2 separate regions of the Homo sapiens genome follow, and region 1 is linked to region 2. A link means that fine-mapping ties the variant in region 2 to the expression of a gene that starts in the linked region. Tissue or cell type: whole blood. Region 2 holds a variant in brackets; the other region holds the start of a gene. All regions are shown on one strand. Distances are between the middles of the regions.

Region 1 (8,179 bases), 32 kb before region 2:
ATTATTATTACGACTTGTTATTATTTTGGAGACAAGGTCCGTCTCTGTCGCCCAGGCTGGAGTGCAGTGGTGCAATCTCGGCTCACTGCAGCCTCGACCTCCCAGGTTCAAGGGACCCTCCCACCTCAGCCTCCTGAGTAGCTGGGACTACAGAAGCACCACTGTGATGGGCTATTATTATTATTTTTTAACTGCAGTGAATGCACTAGCCTTGCTTTAAAGCGAAGCTGGTAGGTTTTACTTTTGCATCTACTGCTTAAACAAAAACATCTTCACATCTGTTAAAGTCAATGGACTTTAAAATGTTATCAAAAACAAAAGAAAACCTCTTCAGTATTTAAATGTAAACCTTCCTGGGCATGTTAGAGGACAGTGTATATGATTTTAAAGTGTAATTTGGCAAGTGTAATTAGGCAATTTCTCAAGAAACAAAAGCTATTAAAAAATCTAGTTGAAGTAAACAGCCTTGCTAAAAAGGCTACTTAAATACACAGAAATTCCAGAGTTCTTTTTCCTCAAACAGTAACCATTAAATTAAACAGTACCAGATTATTCTCCTAAAACCTTTTTGCAGTCTCTTTAAACAAGGCAACAATACTACCTTTTTTTGTTGTTGTTGAAACGGAGTTTCACTCTTGTTGCCCAGGCTGGAGTGCAATGGCGCGATCTCAGCTCACTGCAACCTGCCTCCCAGGTTCAAGCGATTCTCCTGCCTCAGCCTCCCGAGTAGCTGGGATTACAGGCATGTAATACCACGCCCGGCTAATTCTGTATTTTCAGTAGAGACAGGGTGTCTCCATGTTGGACAGGCTGGTCTCCCAACTCTCGACCTCAGGTGATCCGCCCGCCTCGGTCTCCCATGGTGCTGGGATTACAGGAGTGAGCCACCGTGCCTGGCCAACAATACTACTTGTAAACTAGGGGAGGGGCTGAGAGTGGGAGGGATTGTCTAAAATGTTACCCCCTTCCTTTCCAGATCTTATCTCCAAATAGTTATAAGACATATACCTAACACTAGAGTAAACATAAGAACTCAGGCCAACGCTGAAGCTTCTCTAAATGGTAATATTTTCCAGAGTATATTCTCAAACTAAAGACAGCTTTGAAGACTCCTAGAGGAACAATGCAGGCTGCCTGCCACCAGGAGGAAAGCCCTAGTCTCATATAGTAATTAATTATAAAAATAAATAGCTGTGTTCAACGTATCCAAGTAATACCAATTTATTCAACTTATTTATCATAATGTTAAAATATGTGTACCATTTATTTTTAAATGGATTTAGGGTTACAAAATGGTATCACTTCTTTTCATCAGTAATCAAAGTTCTAAAGACAATATTGTCATTTCACAGAAAACTGTATCATATAAATTTAAAATTTAATAACACAGAAGTTATTTTACATCACAAGCAAGCTTCCATCCAGGTGAAGCCTAATTTGTGGGCAAGAGAAACAGATATCCCATCGCAAAATTACCAAGAAGTATTTCTGTTACCTAATATTTCTTTGATACTCCAAGCAAAGTATTTTATCAACAAAGCCACTAAGTACAAATATTTATAAACAGGAACAACACCACTGCTAAATAGGAAGCCATCCTTCCAGACACTCTGCTTTTTCAATGCCAGCAACTCAGCTTCAGACACTACTGCCTTTTTTCCAAACATATTCCACACCAACATTACCATGGAAAGCAGCAGCACATGCAATTTACAGATTAAATGGGGTTGTAGCAACATTTAAATTGGTTTGTCCAATTATTTTAAATGTATTTTAATTTTACATACGGGTTGCACTGAAGTTCTTTATGAAGCGAACTTCCCAGGGGGTGGGTGGGTATTTTTATGATAATGTTTGAAAAATAATTCAAGCAACCTCAAACACCATTTTAAATCGACAAACTAATTATAATCCAAGTTTATGAATTAACATACAACTGATGCCTACTAAGCAAAAGACGTTTGACTTCCTACAGAGTAGGTCTGTGGAAGTCTTTCAGAACTACGCGGCAGAGCTCAGCATTTACACCGAAGTCCAAGGAGCTGTGACCCTTGCGACAGATTCGCTCGCTTCTCGGCGCTCCCAGCTGCGCCGCTCCAGTACTCCCGGGGGGGCAGGACTGTGATCTTTCCTGAAGCCAAAAAGTTCATCACCCTAGGTGAACATGAAGCAAGCAGCAAGCCAGGCTCTCCCCAGCAACGACAGGAGGACAAAGTGGCTCCATGAACTTTGCTGTCTGGACAGCTGGAACCCTGCACCCCGCCCCGCGCTACTTTTTTCTATCGTCGAACGATCAAAGTGGTCTCAGCCCCTGCCTTCCTTCCGTCCGGAGCCCCAGGGTCACCCCACGGGGCCCGTCCGGCCCGAGGACAGCACCTTCCAGAAAAGTTTCTGCGCCGAGGGTCCCCCTCGTGGACGCAGCCCCAGTCACTCACGTTTCCACGGCCACGCGCGGCCCCACCCTCGGGTCAGCAGAGATGCGGCCTGAAACTGTCTCCGAGCCGGCCCCGCGGGTCGCGGGAGGCGGTCCGAACTGCAGCCCCGGCCCCGAGCCCACAGGCCCGGGATCACTGCTACTGCTATAAATCCGCGCCCGAAAGTGGCCGGGCTGAGCGGGGAGAGGGGCCGGGGCGACACCCGCCAGGCCTCCAGCCAATGGGGAGGAGGCCAGCGGGAGACTCGCCCCGCACCCCGAGAGCCGCCGCCTATGGGAATCGCCGATTTGGAGGGCGGAGGCCAGGAGGAGAACCAACCACACCGCAGGGCGGAAGAGCACGGCCCGCCCCAGCAGCGAGAAGAACCAATCCAAGGCTGGAGGCCGAGCGACCCGAAGACGTTCAAATCAACTCGTCCACCCTCCACCCCGCTCCTCCCCGAAAAAGAAAAAAGAAGACAGCGGAAACACAGACCCATACCAGTTATTGCGCTAGGCCCGCCTTCATCCGCCTCAGCGACCAATCGTTCCGCAGGGGAATGATAAGGACATTCCACGAAGGACATCACAGCCAACTACTGGGGGGCTGAGGCGGGACGTTCCATAATATGCTAATGAAGTTCCTATAAAATTCGCTGCGAAGCTACGTCTCGGATAGAACGCGCAGGGGCGCCTTCCCGGCAGAGGCGTCTAGTACTTTCGGGGATAGCGGTCAATTTTTTTTTTTGCCCCCACCCAACTCTTCCGTTTCCCTACTGCGCAGCCTTGTAAACATTAGTAAACTCCGAGTGGTGATCCACATTCAAAACAGAGCCCCCAAAGCCTTGACTGACCTCGCAGGAAAGTTTCCCCAACAGCCAACAATTCCCGGCGGACACGAACTCGCCACCTCTCTCTGACACCCGGGGCGGCCAGGTCTGCAGAGAACGACGCACAGGTCCTCTCACCTGCCACAGTCCTCTCCAAGCCAGCGATCTGCCCGCGCCCCCCCGAGCGCAGCGCAGATGGGCGCCTTCCCCGCCTCCGCTCCTCCCCTTCCCTTCCCTTCCCTACGGCACACAGAGAAAAGCCCTCGTCCTCCGCAAACTACAACCGGCGGCGTCGCCCCTCGCAGTCGGCCCCTACTCGGTGTCCAGCTCCAAGTGAGGGCCGGAGGGGGCTGGGCGGGGGCGGCCGACCTACCCCGAGCGGAGTACTACCCGGTACTTTATGTAACACTCAGATTCGGGACTGAGTGGGGGGCGACGAAGAAGGGCCAGAGGAACGGCGTTGCCCGGGACCGAGGCACCGGGTCCGCGGGAACCCCGGCCCACAGCCGCCCTCCTCCTGCAGCCCCGTCTCGGCGCCCTATAGCCCCAGGCGCCGGCACATCCCTCCATCTCGCGCCGTAATCTGCACCCCCTCCTAGAGGACGCGGCTTGGACCCGCCGCCCCCTCCCCCGCAGCACCCGCCTCATCACTTCACTACAAAGAGCGCTTTGGTCGCGCAGCCTTGCAGCGAGACCTCTCGCGCCTCCTTCCTCCTCCGTGTCCCGGGCTTTGCACACAAGGACCTTGGCGAATCAAAGGCGCTCCAGACCTTTTGTTCCTGCCCCTGCCGAGGGCCGCCGCTGCGGAGCCGGCCGCTTCCTCCGGTCCACGGCAGGACCGGCCCGGCTCCGCGGCGCGCCCGGACCCGCCGGGAAGGAGGCGGCCGCCCCCGCCCATCCATCACCCGGCCGTACCTTGGTATTTCGCGTCGATCTCCCGCATCAGCGAGACATTTCTCTGCAAGTCGAAAGGCAGGGACTCGATGGAGTCCAGGTAGTCCTCCACATAGTTCACCAGGTGGAGCTGCTCCCCGTTGGCAGGACTCAACATGGTTCACCCCGGAGGTCCCCGGCGACTCGGCGCGGCTTTCCGCTTCCTCCACCCCCCGCCCCCCTCAAAAAATAGCACTGCAAAATGCAAAGCCCTCGCTCTCCCGGCGCCCCCCCGCCGGCTCCTGCTTCGGCCCGGCGGCTACATCTGCCGAGCCCGTCCGCCGCCTCCGGGTCCGCGGGGACCCCAGCGCCTGAGGGCGCGGGCCGCGGTGGCGGTGGCTCCCGGGCGCACGCCCCGGCCGGCGGCGCAGGCCCCCTCTCAGGCGGCGGGGCTGGCGCCGGGGGCCGCGCGTACGAGCGCGCACACACCGGCGGGAGAGGGCCCAGCGCCGCGGCCGCCGCTGCCCACTCGCCCACTGGGCTGGGTAGAAGAGAGGAGCGGAGCGGGCAGCGGGAAGGGGCGCGCTCCGCTGGCCGCCGAGCCGCACTTGTCCAACGTGGAAAACCCAAATACCAGTTTCAAACACTTGGGAAACATTCAGCCCCGCTGCGCAGCGCGCATGCGCCCCGGCCCCCTCCCCCGGCAACGGCCCCGCCCCCCGCCGCATTCACGCCCCTCACCGTCCCAGGCCCTGGGGGCTGCGGGCTCCAGGCCGGCCCTCGCGGGGGCGTGGCCTTGCCTGTCACTTTTTCCAGAGGCGAGGGTCGCGGAGGGGACAGCGTCAGGGCCGCTGGGGTGTGGACGGCGGGCGAGGCGCAAACTTTACTAGGAGTTTTTGGCACTTGGAGGCAGAGCCTGTTGGGCGGCACAGCACGCCCGCTGGGAAACGCAGGGGAGCGGCCTGCTTCGCTGAAAACCCGACCAGGACCTAACGGGCCGCGGGACAGAAACCTCCGAGACCATGGTACACAGCAACTACCGCAACTCGCTCCTCAGCCCCTGACTCTTCGTCCCCGCCCCACAGAGCAGTATAAGTAGGGCCCGAAACAGAACTGGCAACCGCAGTAGCCAATCTACTTGCCAACATCACTTTGACAGCCCAATCACGATGAAGAGGAGGCGGGGAGACCGTGAGTAATGCCCCCCGGACTCTTACTACTAGAAACCCAAGTCCTCCGGGAGGCGGAAGGAAGGGGAGGGCCGGGCACGGGCGGAAGTGGCGGCGCATGCGCACTGGCACCCTCTCGGTGTCCTTTGAGCTGCGGCCGCAGAGTGCGCGGGAGACCTACCCATTCCGCGGCCGGACCACCACTCCCAGCAGCCTAGGCGGCTCCCGCGCCTGCGCCATCCGTCACCGCCCTCCCTTTGTGTCGTCTCCCGGTACTCAGTTTGGAACGGCTTGGAGACAAAGGGGCCTGAGAGGGAAGCTGCTTCCTAGTGCCGAGCCCCAGAAGAGGTGGATAGGCCCGAGGGGCGCCTTCCCTAGGCCTTATCTCTTCCCGCCCTGTGTCATGGACACCGTTCTCGGAGGCCGCTCCCCACACTTGGAAAGGCCGCCCACAGTATGCAGACACCCGGTCGGCCGGCGTCCTGAGGCCATTCAGCTCCCCGGACCGCCCTCCCCCGCGTCGCCCCTCTACCCTCCCAAAGCTCCCGGATTTTGGGCTTTCTGAGAAGCCTGGACGCCACGCGAGCCCGTTGCCTAGGCGACCGGCCCCGCGCGCCGGCCCCCCCCCTTCCGGCCAAAGGGCCCGCCCCTCCTGGGCGTGGCCTCGTGCCTTTGTGCACTTCCCGCCTGGCTCTCTGGTTCCGGGGCGGCCTCGGCTTCGGCCTCCGCCCCGCTGCGGCCGCCGCGGGTCCCCTCCGGGGTGGCCCCGAGAGCTGTGTTCGCCACGCTTGGCTGCCTGCTTTTCTCTGATTTTCTTCCGCCTTGGACCCTGCTCTATTTGCATTGTCTTTTTTTCAGCAAGTCGGAGAACGGTGCCTTGTCAGTTTTCACCTTTCTCACTGGACTTTCTCTTTTCCGGAGAGCCGGGTTGGTGGTGCTGCCTGTGTATTCCACGAACTAAGCCCTGTCCCCAGCCCTTGCAGTGTTTCTGTATCAACTCCACGCCAGCGCGGTTCTCCATTTTTCTTAGCCTCTTAATTAGGACAGGGTCGGATTTCAGCTTTTATCCACCGGGTTTATCCTGTTGCAAAGCAGAGTACACAGTTTTAGACACAAAATAATTGCAGTTGAAATGGATACACATTCTGGTGGTAAGATTTGGAAACGTGGTATTTGATGGAACCCTGTTGTAACATCTAAAACTCTTTGGATTTTTTAAAAACGTATTCTGTGTAATCCAGTAAAAATTTGGATTCGTCCAGTATTTATAGAGTAGATTATTAACCGCAGTGGTGCTCATTCCAGGGCCCTGCCGGGTATTTTGTGCTATGGATGTGAGTACGGCAAAGAGACTGAATTAAGCTGTTTTGTATTTGGAATCGGATTGTTCACGTTGCAACGTTGCTGCAATGATAAATGGATGGATACTCTTTACACTTTGAAGTGGATTTAATCTTCACTTTTAAGCCCCTTCATCTCACCTACACAGCAGGAGAGCTTTGGCTTTGATATTTGGGGAAATGGCTGTTATTTTACTTACAGATCACGCTATTCTAGTCTTGGCCTAGTTAAAAGCAAATGAGTACTTTAGTTTCTACAAGATTTATTGGCCACTACTTGGTCTGCACAAAAGACTATAACACTTGGCCGGACGCGGTGGCTCACGCCTGTAATCCTACCACTTTGGGAGGCCGAGGCGGGCGAATTGCCTGAGATCAGGAGTTCGGGACCAGCTTGGGCAACATGGTGAAACCCTGTCTCTACTAAAAATACAAAAAATTAGCAGGGCATGGTGGCGCGTGCCTGTAGTCCCAGCTATTGGGGAGGCTGAGACAGAATCACTTGAACCTAGGAGGGGAGGTTGCAGTGAGCCGAGATTGTGCCACTGCACTCCAGCCTGGGCGACAGAGCAAGACTATCTCCGGAAAAAAAGAGAAAAAAAGACTACGACAAGATAACATTATGTGGAAACAAACATTATGTCGAATACAGAGTATAGAGGGAGTACAAAGTTGAATAAGGAAAATTACGCCTTTCCCTCAAAAAGCATATAAGTAATTTAAAAGTACAATAGTAAGAAATAGACCGGTTCTTCTATTCCTAGCATTCATTGGCTCTAGAATGAATAGTGTTTATCTGAACTCAAGAATAAAATTGGAAGTAATTTACCCTTTACAAAGATAAGATGGAGTTTAACCTAGGTTTTCTTTTTAAAAAAAAAAATCACAACACAGTACAATCTGAGTAATGATTTTGTTCCTCTAGTTATGTACTCTCTTCACATACACATAAACCAAAAAGGCATCTTAAGCATTCAACAAGGAATATTGACGAGTGTCTACCATGTGCCAACTACTGGTCCGTGCGCTGGGGATACAGTAGTGAAAAGTTTTTTGGAGCTTTACATTCCATAAAACTTTTAGCCCACCCCTTGGGATAAAAAGTCAAAAAAGATTTTATCTTTTTTGGAACAAACTTAGAAGATCAAGCAATAAAACATAATTACCTTTGATAACGAATTTTAAATGTCATTGAAGAAAGGTGCTTAATTTTGAAGATACGTTGAAGAATCTTGTCTCTTTCAGTTTTGTTTCCTGTGGCGTGTTGCAAAAATGGATGTTAAAACTTTTCCGTAGAACAGAAATTTCAAATGGATTAAAAAGAAACATTTAAAATTAAACTTTTTTCTAAAATTATATTTCCAGTCTAACTGAAAATGCTCAAACCTATGAGAGTCAGATATAAGAGATGAACATATAATTCTTTTTCTTTTTTTGAGACGGAGTCTTGCTCTTGTCACCCAGACTGGAGTGCAGTGGCGTGATCTCAGCTCACTGCAACCTCCGCCTCCCGGGTTCAAGCGATTCTCCTGCCTCAGCCTCCTGAGTAGCTGG
Region 2 (8,179 bases):
CCCAGTACTTTGGGAGGTGGAAGCGGGTGGATCACTTGAGGCCAAGAATTTGAGACCAGCCTGGGTAACATGTTAAAACCTTCTTTCTACTAAGATGACAAAAAATCAGCCAGGCCTGGTATCGCGCGCCTGTGGTCCCAGCTATTCTGGAGGCTGAGGCATGAGAATTGCTTGCACCCAGGAGGCATAGTTTGCAGTGAGCCGAGATCACACCATTGTACTCCAGCCTGGGTGACATTGCCAGACTGTCTCAAAAAATAAAAATAAAAAAGTGAGTTGCAGGGCTGGGCGTGGTGGCTGATACCTATAATCCCAGCACTTTGGGAGGCAGAGGCAGGTGGATCACTTGAGTCCAGGAGTTCAGGACCAGCCTGGGCAACATGGAGAGACCCCTTCTCTACAAAAATAAAATATAAAAATTAGCTAGGCATGGTGGCGTGCTCCTGTAGTCTCAGCTACTCAGGAGGCCGAGGTGAGAGGATAGATTGAGCCCAGGAAATTCGAGGCTGCAGTGAACCATGATTGTCCCACTGCACACCAGCCTGGGAGACAGAGCGAGACCTTGTCTCAAAAAAAAAAAAAAAAAGCGTGAGTTGCAGATGTTCTGTCGCATCAGCCATGACACTTCAACATGCATCTCTGCATAAAAGGAGTCCAGATGTCATGGTCAGACCTCAGACAATGAAGAATTTCTGGCTAGCTTCGCGTGTCCTCTCTGTATTAAATATACTCACTTGTCCCCAGGGCATGTGCTGCGTGTGCATTTGTTGGTTTAGTCTCCTCACTTTTTCCCCTCCTCTTTCTTTTTTTCTTTTTTTCTCTTTTTTTTTTTTTTTCATTTTTTCTGGGTAAGCACATGTAGATTCAAGACTCTGACAGGTCAGTTTTCCTGTGGAGCAGTCTGTGTTTAGATTTGCATGTTGCTTACTGCAGGTGGTTTCATTGGTTTGCGGATGCTAATCTTTGTCTGGTGGACCCCAGGCAAGGCTGGCGTCTTGCTGTTTTGCTGCTTTGGTGATGAAGCATCGCCATAAATCCGAACTAAATCCCACCCATCCTGGCTGCAAACCCTGACCACAGCCTCATCTCTCCATGAAGTTCTCCTTCACCCAGCACAGTTGAAAGTGAACTTACTTTCTCAGCCTTGATATCTCTGCTGTACCATTTGGCAGCCAGTTCTGCACTGCCATAGTTTGCTGTTTAATGTATTCATATTTTGTCCCCATCTAGATCATAAATTCTCAGACCATAAAAACCTTTTGCTTTACTGAATGACGCCTTAAAGTATCCAGCCGACGGCTGAAGATACGTAGGTATTGAATGTTTGTTGCAATGAGTCAGAAAGCATGAAGCACTGCCCTGGACGTTCCTGTCCTTCCTGGGTCCTACTTGGAGCGTAAGATGAGCACGTGAGGCCCTGAGGATCTGCTCAGTAGGCTCTGTGTATGGAAGTAGCTTTTTACTTGTTCTAATGTGGTATATTTAGATTTTGTTTCAAAGAAAAACTTTTTTTTTTTTTGAGACAGAGTCTTGCTCTGTCGCCTAGGCTGGAGTGCAGTGGCACAATCTTGGCTCACAGCAACCTCCGCCTCCCGGGTTCAAGCAATTCTCCTGCCTCAGCCTCCCAGGAAAAACTTTTTTTAAAGGACTTAGGTGGTTGAATTAGAGTTTGCACCAGAAAACACAGGAATTAATTTTTTGCTGTCGTGTAACTTGAAATAAGATATGTGGGCCTGTGCTTCCATTTTAGGAATAAAGTGATAAATGTTCACGAGTCTTTAGGGATTCTCGTCTTCACAGGCTTGAGGATTGAATGCTGTTTGTTGTTTTGTTACTGTGTTTTATTATAAACAATTTAATGATAGTATAAATATAATTAATTCAAAATACACTTACATTCAATCAAACCCCAGTAATTTGGACTTTGTTACAATTCCACAAGGGCTTGGTTGTAATTTGATCTTTGAACTCTTGGTGAAAAACAATTTCTTCAGCAAATTGATAACATAAAGCAAAGTGAAGGGGGAATGTTTCCACCATTTAAGGGAGTGGTTTCTCTCCAGTGAAGCGCTTTTAAAGCACTGTTTATATTCTGACTTCATAGAAAGCAGCTCCCAGGGCCTGGATGTCCCCCTCCTGTCCTCTGGTTCATCCCCAGCACCGAGTGCCAGCTTAATGGTCAACCCTGAATGACCAGAGAGGACGCTGCAGGGACAGGGCAGGGTTTTCTGAGCACAATGGTCACTGGTGGGAGGAAAGGCCAGTGTGGCTTGGGCAAACAAAGCCGGGTGACATTTCAACAGAAAACCCTGCCCTGTCCCTTCAGCGTCCTCCCTGGTCATTCGGGGTTGACCACTAAGCTGGCACTCGGTGCTGGGGATGAACCAGAGGACAGGAGGGGGACATCCAGGCTGAGGACATGAGGCAGGTCCTGGGTGCAGCTTGTGTTTGCCAGTTGCAAAGTTTCCTTGATCTTACCAACACCAGTGTCCGCAGTAAGGACAGTACTGATGCAAATCAGTAACTGCATTAGTAAAAAAGAATGTGAAGACTCAAACTTTGTAAAGGCTAAAAGTTGCACCCACGCCTGGGGCCTGAGGACAGCTACATGCTGCTGTGTGGTTGGAGGGTGCTGGATGGTGGCTGCGGATCTGTGGTACTGAGAATGGCCATGGTCACAGCCCGGATGAGCATTGCCTCCTTCCTAGGGAGACACATGGCCTGGAACACACAGCGGCTGCAGCCGGGCAGCCTTGGAGCATAGGTTGGTAGTGCTTTCTTCTTGACAAAGCTCCCACTCTGAGTGCCTCCTCCCCAGCTCTGCTTTCTTAGGCTTTGTGGTGGAAGGGGCAAGGGCAGCCCAGGCTTGCAGGAGGCTCTGGAGAAGGTTCTGACCTCAGACTGCAAAGCGGACCTTGGCACTCAGCCTCACAGACACTTCAATATGCAGATGATTTTTTTGTGTGTTTTTTTTGGTAGAGATGGGGTCTCACTATGTTGCCCAGGCTGGTCTCGAACTCTTCAGCTCAAACAATCCTCCTGCCTCGGACTCCCAAAGTGCTGGGATTGGAGGCGTGAGCCACTGCACCCAGCCAGATGATGTTTTCAATCTGAGTAAAAAGGTAGTTTTAGAAGATGACTGGGCAAAGAAAGAGTGTCTTTGCTAGCTGGTGTGTAACATAAAGTAAAGAAAGAGTGTCTTTGTTAGCTGTTGTGTAACACAAGGCACAAGATCTAAATGAAGGTCAGTGATAACACTTTTCTTTTTTCTGATTAAATAATTGTCTCAGTAGTTTACAGAGAACTTACATTTGTGTTTTCACTTTCACGTCTGTGTACTCATGATATGTCCAAATCATGCATTTATCTTATAGTATTGTTTTTAATTCTGGTTAACAAATATATTAAGCCAGGCATGGTGTCACTCCTATAGCCCCACCTACTGG[G/T]AAGGTTGAGGTGGGAAGACTGCCTGAGCCAAGGAGTTCAAGGCTATCGTGAGCTGTGATTGTACCACTGCACTCCAGCCTGAGCAACAGCAAGACCCTGTCTATAAAAATATAAATACTATATATGTATATGGGGCCAAATGCTATGTTCTGTATTTAAATTCTAATTACTTGTTAGATGTTAAGGTTGTCAATATGCTGATATTCAGACTGAGAAGTGATGAATTCATAATTGTCTTTATAAACAGGCAATGTCTACTTCGATCTGAAGTCTAGAGGAGACAAGTATGGCAAATTGGTCGGCGTGGTCCCTGGTCCAGTCGGAGAGCCAGGTGGGTTGGCCGGGCTCAGCCCTGTGGGTCCCTGACCTCTGCCTCGGGTCTCAGCTCTGGGGAGATGAGATCTGGAGCGCAGACCCCTCCACTTGCTCAGACACTGGCCTTACCCAGGTCACAGCTGTGTTTTAAATTTAGTGTGGTTTCTGTGGATGGCTCCAGCTTGTGAGGCATATAGTTCAAACGGCAAGTGGGGCATCGTCCACCCCCGCCCCCAGCGTGCCTGGCTCCATTCCCTGGAGACAGTGCTGGTCACTGTCTCCTTTTTCCTCCCCAGGGTTTTCAGCGCACATGAAAACCTCATACACGTACATCATATTTTCGCGTTCTTCTGTGTTACCGTACATTTAATTCCCATACGTGTCTTACTATGTGTTAAACTTCCAATCTGTTTGAATCTCTTCCTTGCTCTATTCTGTTCCAGGGAGTTATTAGGTCAAAACATTTTTATGGAGAAGAAATAGTAAGCGCAGTATATGGAACTAAATTTAAAATAATTTGAAAAGGATACTGTCTAAGGGAATCAAACAAGAATAACAGGGACAGACCCCAAAGACTGTTCAAGGTATTTCTGGTTTTAGGCACTGTCTTTCTGCGCCATAAACTGTGCCAATGAATCCTAACCATCCATAGCACTGACCCCTCAGGTTCTTTCCTTCCCCCGCCGTGGTGCCCTGTCCCGCTCCCCGCACAGGCCGGAACACAGACGCCCACATCAGCCACGTGTGAGGCGTGGCTACCAGCAGGCCGTGTGGGCTTTGCTTACACATGTGGAGGAGAAGTTTCTGAGAGTTGTACATTCTGGCATCAGGAAGGTTTTTTAAAATTATTTATTTAATAGATTTGCTTTTTAGAGCCATTTTAGCTTCATAGCAAATTTGAGAGTAAGGTACAGAGAATTCCTGTCTACCTGCTACCCTCCACACCGCCCCCCACACTGTCAGCATCCCCCACCATTGACGCATCAGCTTTGCCCAGAGACCAGAGTTGGCATCAGGGTTCACTCTCGGCACTGTGTGCTCTGGGTTTGGGTGAATGTATAGCGACATGTTTCCACCATTCCAGCATCACGCAGGATACTTGCACTGCCCTGAAAAATCCTGTGTGGTCTGTCTGCTCATCCTTCCCTCTTTCCCATCCCTGGAAATCACTGGTCTTTCTACAGTCTCTAGTTTTGCCTTTTCTAGAATGTCATATAGTTGGAGTCATACACTGTGCACCCTTCTCAGAATGGCTTCTCTCACTTAGGAATACACAGTAATTTTCCTCCGTGTCTTTTCATGGCTGAGAGCTCGTTTCTCTTTAACACTGAGTCACGTCCCAGTGTCTGAATTTACAGCAGCTTAAGCACTCACCTACTGAAGGGCATCTTCGCTGCTTCTGAGTTTTGGCAATTATGAATAAAGCTGCTGTAAACATCCACGTGCAGGTTTTCAGCTCATTTGGGCAGATACCAAGGAGCACAATGCTGGGTCCTCTGGGAAGAGGCTTATTTGTGTCAGAAACTGCCCAGCTTCTGCCAGAGTGGCTGCACCATTTTGCATCCCCACCAGTGAGGAATAAGTCCCTGTCGTTCCACATCTTCACAGCAGTGCTTTTTAAAATAAAAAATATTTTCTTATACAAAAGCAACATATTTATATAATTTATAATGGTACAAAATTAGGAAATAGAATTACACAAAACAAAGATAATAAAACCACCATTTTTACATATGGTGAAAAAAAATTTTAATGCCTTAGTGTATGTTATTTCCAAAGCAATGGTGTTGTCTTTTTAATTTTCAATTTAAATTGTTGTAATAACACAACAATAGAAAACACCATTAAAAAATGTCCAACTTGGTTGAGCATGGTGGCTCACACCTGTAATTCCAGCACTTTAGGAGGCCAAGGTTGGAGGATCACTTGAGGCCAGGAGTTCAAGACCAGCCTGGGCAATGTAGTGAGACCCCTTGCTGTCTCTACCAAACAAACAAAAATGCCCAGCTCAGTGAATTTGTGTTCAGTGGAGACCCTGCGGTCACCCCCTAGTGGAAGGAGACAACAATGGCAAGGGAGCGAAGGCACCTGAGTCCTCCGGGTCCCACGCCCTGGCCGATAACCTCCCGGGCCCTGCCTGCCAGCCTCTCTGCCCTGCCCTGGGGGCAACTACTGCCCTAACTCTGACAGCGGCCACCTCCTCATTTTTCTGAATGGGTTTATTGCCCAAACACGTGTCCCTTAACACGACACTTAGCCTTAGCTGTTCTATATTTGTGTCTTGTTTTTAGTCCACATGTTCCTCCCCTGGCTTCTTCCCCTTGCTGCTCATTTGAGGGAGAAACGTCATGTGTCTCACGGTTCCCCCAGTGGGATTTCGCTTGCTCTGAGTTTTGGAGTGTCTGTAACATTTCCCTCTGTCCTGTGTGTTTTTTTGCAAACTGGTAGTTGAATGTAGAGGCTTAATCCAGTTCTAAATTTCTGGAGAAGGCTACTTTGTAGATGGTGTATTCCTCACCAGGAGACACGTAAGGGCTCTGCCTCTGTGTGTCAGCAGCCCTGGCCGCTCTAGGCTTAGATCCTTCACTGCAAAAAGAGGTGGCATGGTGGTGCAACTCCCATTCTGCTTTATTTGCTGGAATACCTTTTTTGTTTGTTTGTTTGTTTGTTTTTTGAGACGGAATCTCACTCTTTTGCCCAGGCTGGAGTGCAGTGGCATGATCTCGGTTCACTGCAACCTCCACCTCCCAGGTTCAAGCAGTTCTCCCTGCCTCAGCCTCCAGAGTAGCTGGGATTACAGGGGCATGCCACCACACCCAGCTAATTTTTGTAGTTTTAGTAGAGATGGGGTTTTGCCGTGTTGGCCAGGCTGGTCTTGAACTCCTGACCTCAGGTGATCCACCCCCCCCCCCCCCCCCCTCGGCCTCCCAAAGTACTGGGGTTATCGGTGTGAGCCACCGTGCCTGGCCCATTTGCTGGAATACTTTTATACAGGCAGACTGTCATCTGGTTACTCAGTGGTACAGTTTGTATAAGAAAGGCAGGACCTTTTCCTTAACTTACCAGTTTTCAGAACAAGGAGTTGGCTTCCATATTTTCCTCTGGCAGTGACCAGTTCATGTTCTTCCGTTGCTGAGAGCTCGTGGGCTTCAGTGCACATGCCGTTTTAACCCATTGCTGCCATCACCTTATTGAGCCTCGGCGTGCCCCCTCTTTTGCTGGTAGCAGCTACTCCCGAGTCCCTTACACTCAGCCCTGTTGTAGTTAATAGTTTTGTGGCTGTCTATCTGATATGGTAAGATATTCCTGGCTCATCTTAAAATAAGCTGTTTCTCCTGGAAGTCCCATTTTTCTCTTTTCTTTCTTCCCTTTTCTTCCCTTTCCCTCCCTCCCTCCCTCCCTCCCTCCCTCCCTCCGGTCACGCCCGGTGTCCCTCCCTCCCTCTCTCTCTCTCTCTCTCTCTCTCTCTTTCTTTCTTTCTTTCTTTCTTTCTCTCTCTTTCTTTCTTTCTTTCTTTTCTTTTCTTTTGTTTTTTTGAGATAGAATGTCACTCTTGTTGTTCAGGCTGGAGTGCAATGGCGCGATCTCGGCTCACTGTAACCTCCGCCTCCCGAGCTCAAGCGATTCTCCTGCCTCAGCCTCCACAGTAGCTGGGATTACAGGCACCTGCCACCACACCCGGCTGATTTTTGTATTTTTAGTAGAGACGAGGTTTCGTCATATTGGTCAGGCTGGTCTCGAACTCCTGACCTCAGGTGATCCGCCCGCCTCGGCCTCCCAAAGTGCTGGGATTCTAGGTGTGAGCCACCGCGCCCAGCTCCCATTTTACTTTTAATGGGAAATGGTGTTTTGAGAACACAGCATGGGCACCATGGATACTCATTGTTGCCATCTGTCATTGCCGTCTGTCATTGTTTCCTGGCCTCTCCCATAGACTGAGGTAATGAACGCATCTGCTCCGTAGGTCACACTGATACTCAAATTCAGGGCCACGGGGTTTCATTAACCCCTCTGTCTGTTCACATGTGTGGTAAGGACAACGGGCGTGACCGGATGACCAGTGGGCATCCACCTGCTTTAGTCCATCACGGACCAGCCCTGCCCGAGGCTTGACCACGGTTAGAAGGTTCCCATGCACGTGCCTCCTCCCCGCCCCGCGTGTCCATATGTTGGAGTGCCCAGCCTCCGCCTGCGCTGCCTTCTGTAGCCCCGTCCACTCTTCCCCCCTCCCACCGTCTCCAGGTCCGCTTTTTCCCTGTTGTTTTTGAAGCTCATTCCCCAGCAGTTTCTGAAGGAAGAGCCCTTTCTCGGGAACAGTATTCTCTGCATTTGTGCCTGTGGATGACAGTGTGCTGCCTTCTACTTCAAAGTCAGTTTGGCTGGAAATACAGTCCTTGGCCGCATTTTCTGTCCTTAA

The links. PIP is the estimated chance that this variant, and not a neighbour inherited with it, causes the effect.
Region 1: it holds the start of ING1, and the variant in region 2 is fine-mapped to the expression of ING1 in whole blood (INTERVAL, PIP 0.96).

The regions. Positions count from the first base shown.
Region 1 is chr13:110,710,265-110,718,443 of GRCh38, reverse strand. It overlaps ING1 (inhibitor of growth family member 1), which reads right to left and starts at 4,744. Exons shown (of 2, transcript NM_198219.3): 1 at 4,159-4,744. The coding sequence starts at 4,294. It also overlaps a transcript of CARS2 not described here. RefSeq lists enhancers at 1,938-2,027, 1,897-2,590, 2,768-2,937, 5,578-5,627, 6,228-6,317 and silencers at 2,318-2,367, 2,398-2,677, 3,448-3,517, 3,558-3,817, 3,908-4,197 and 4 more.
Region 2 is chr13:110,678,650-110,686,828 of GRCh38, reverse strand. CARS2 (cysteinyl-tRNA synthetase 2, mitochondrial) reads left to right here. Exons shown (of 15, transcript NM_024537.4): 6 at 3,695-3,778. Among named protein-coding and RNA genes, the nearest start is that of CARS2, 23 kb to the left of the region's middle. The variant G/T (reference allele first, on the strand shown) is at 3,447.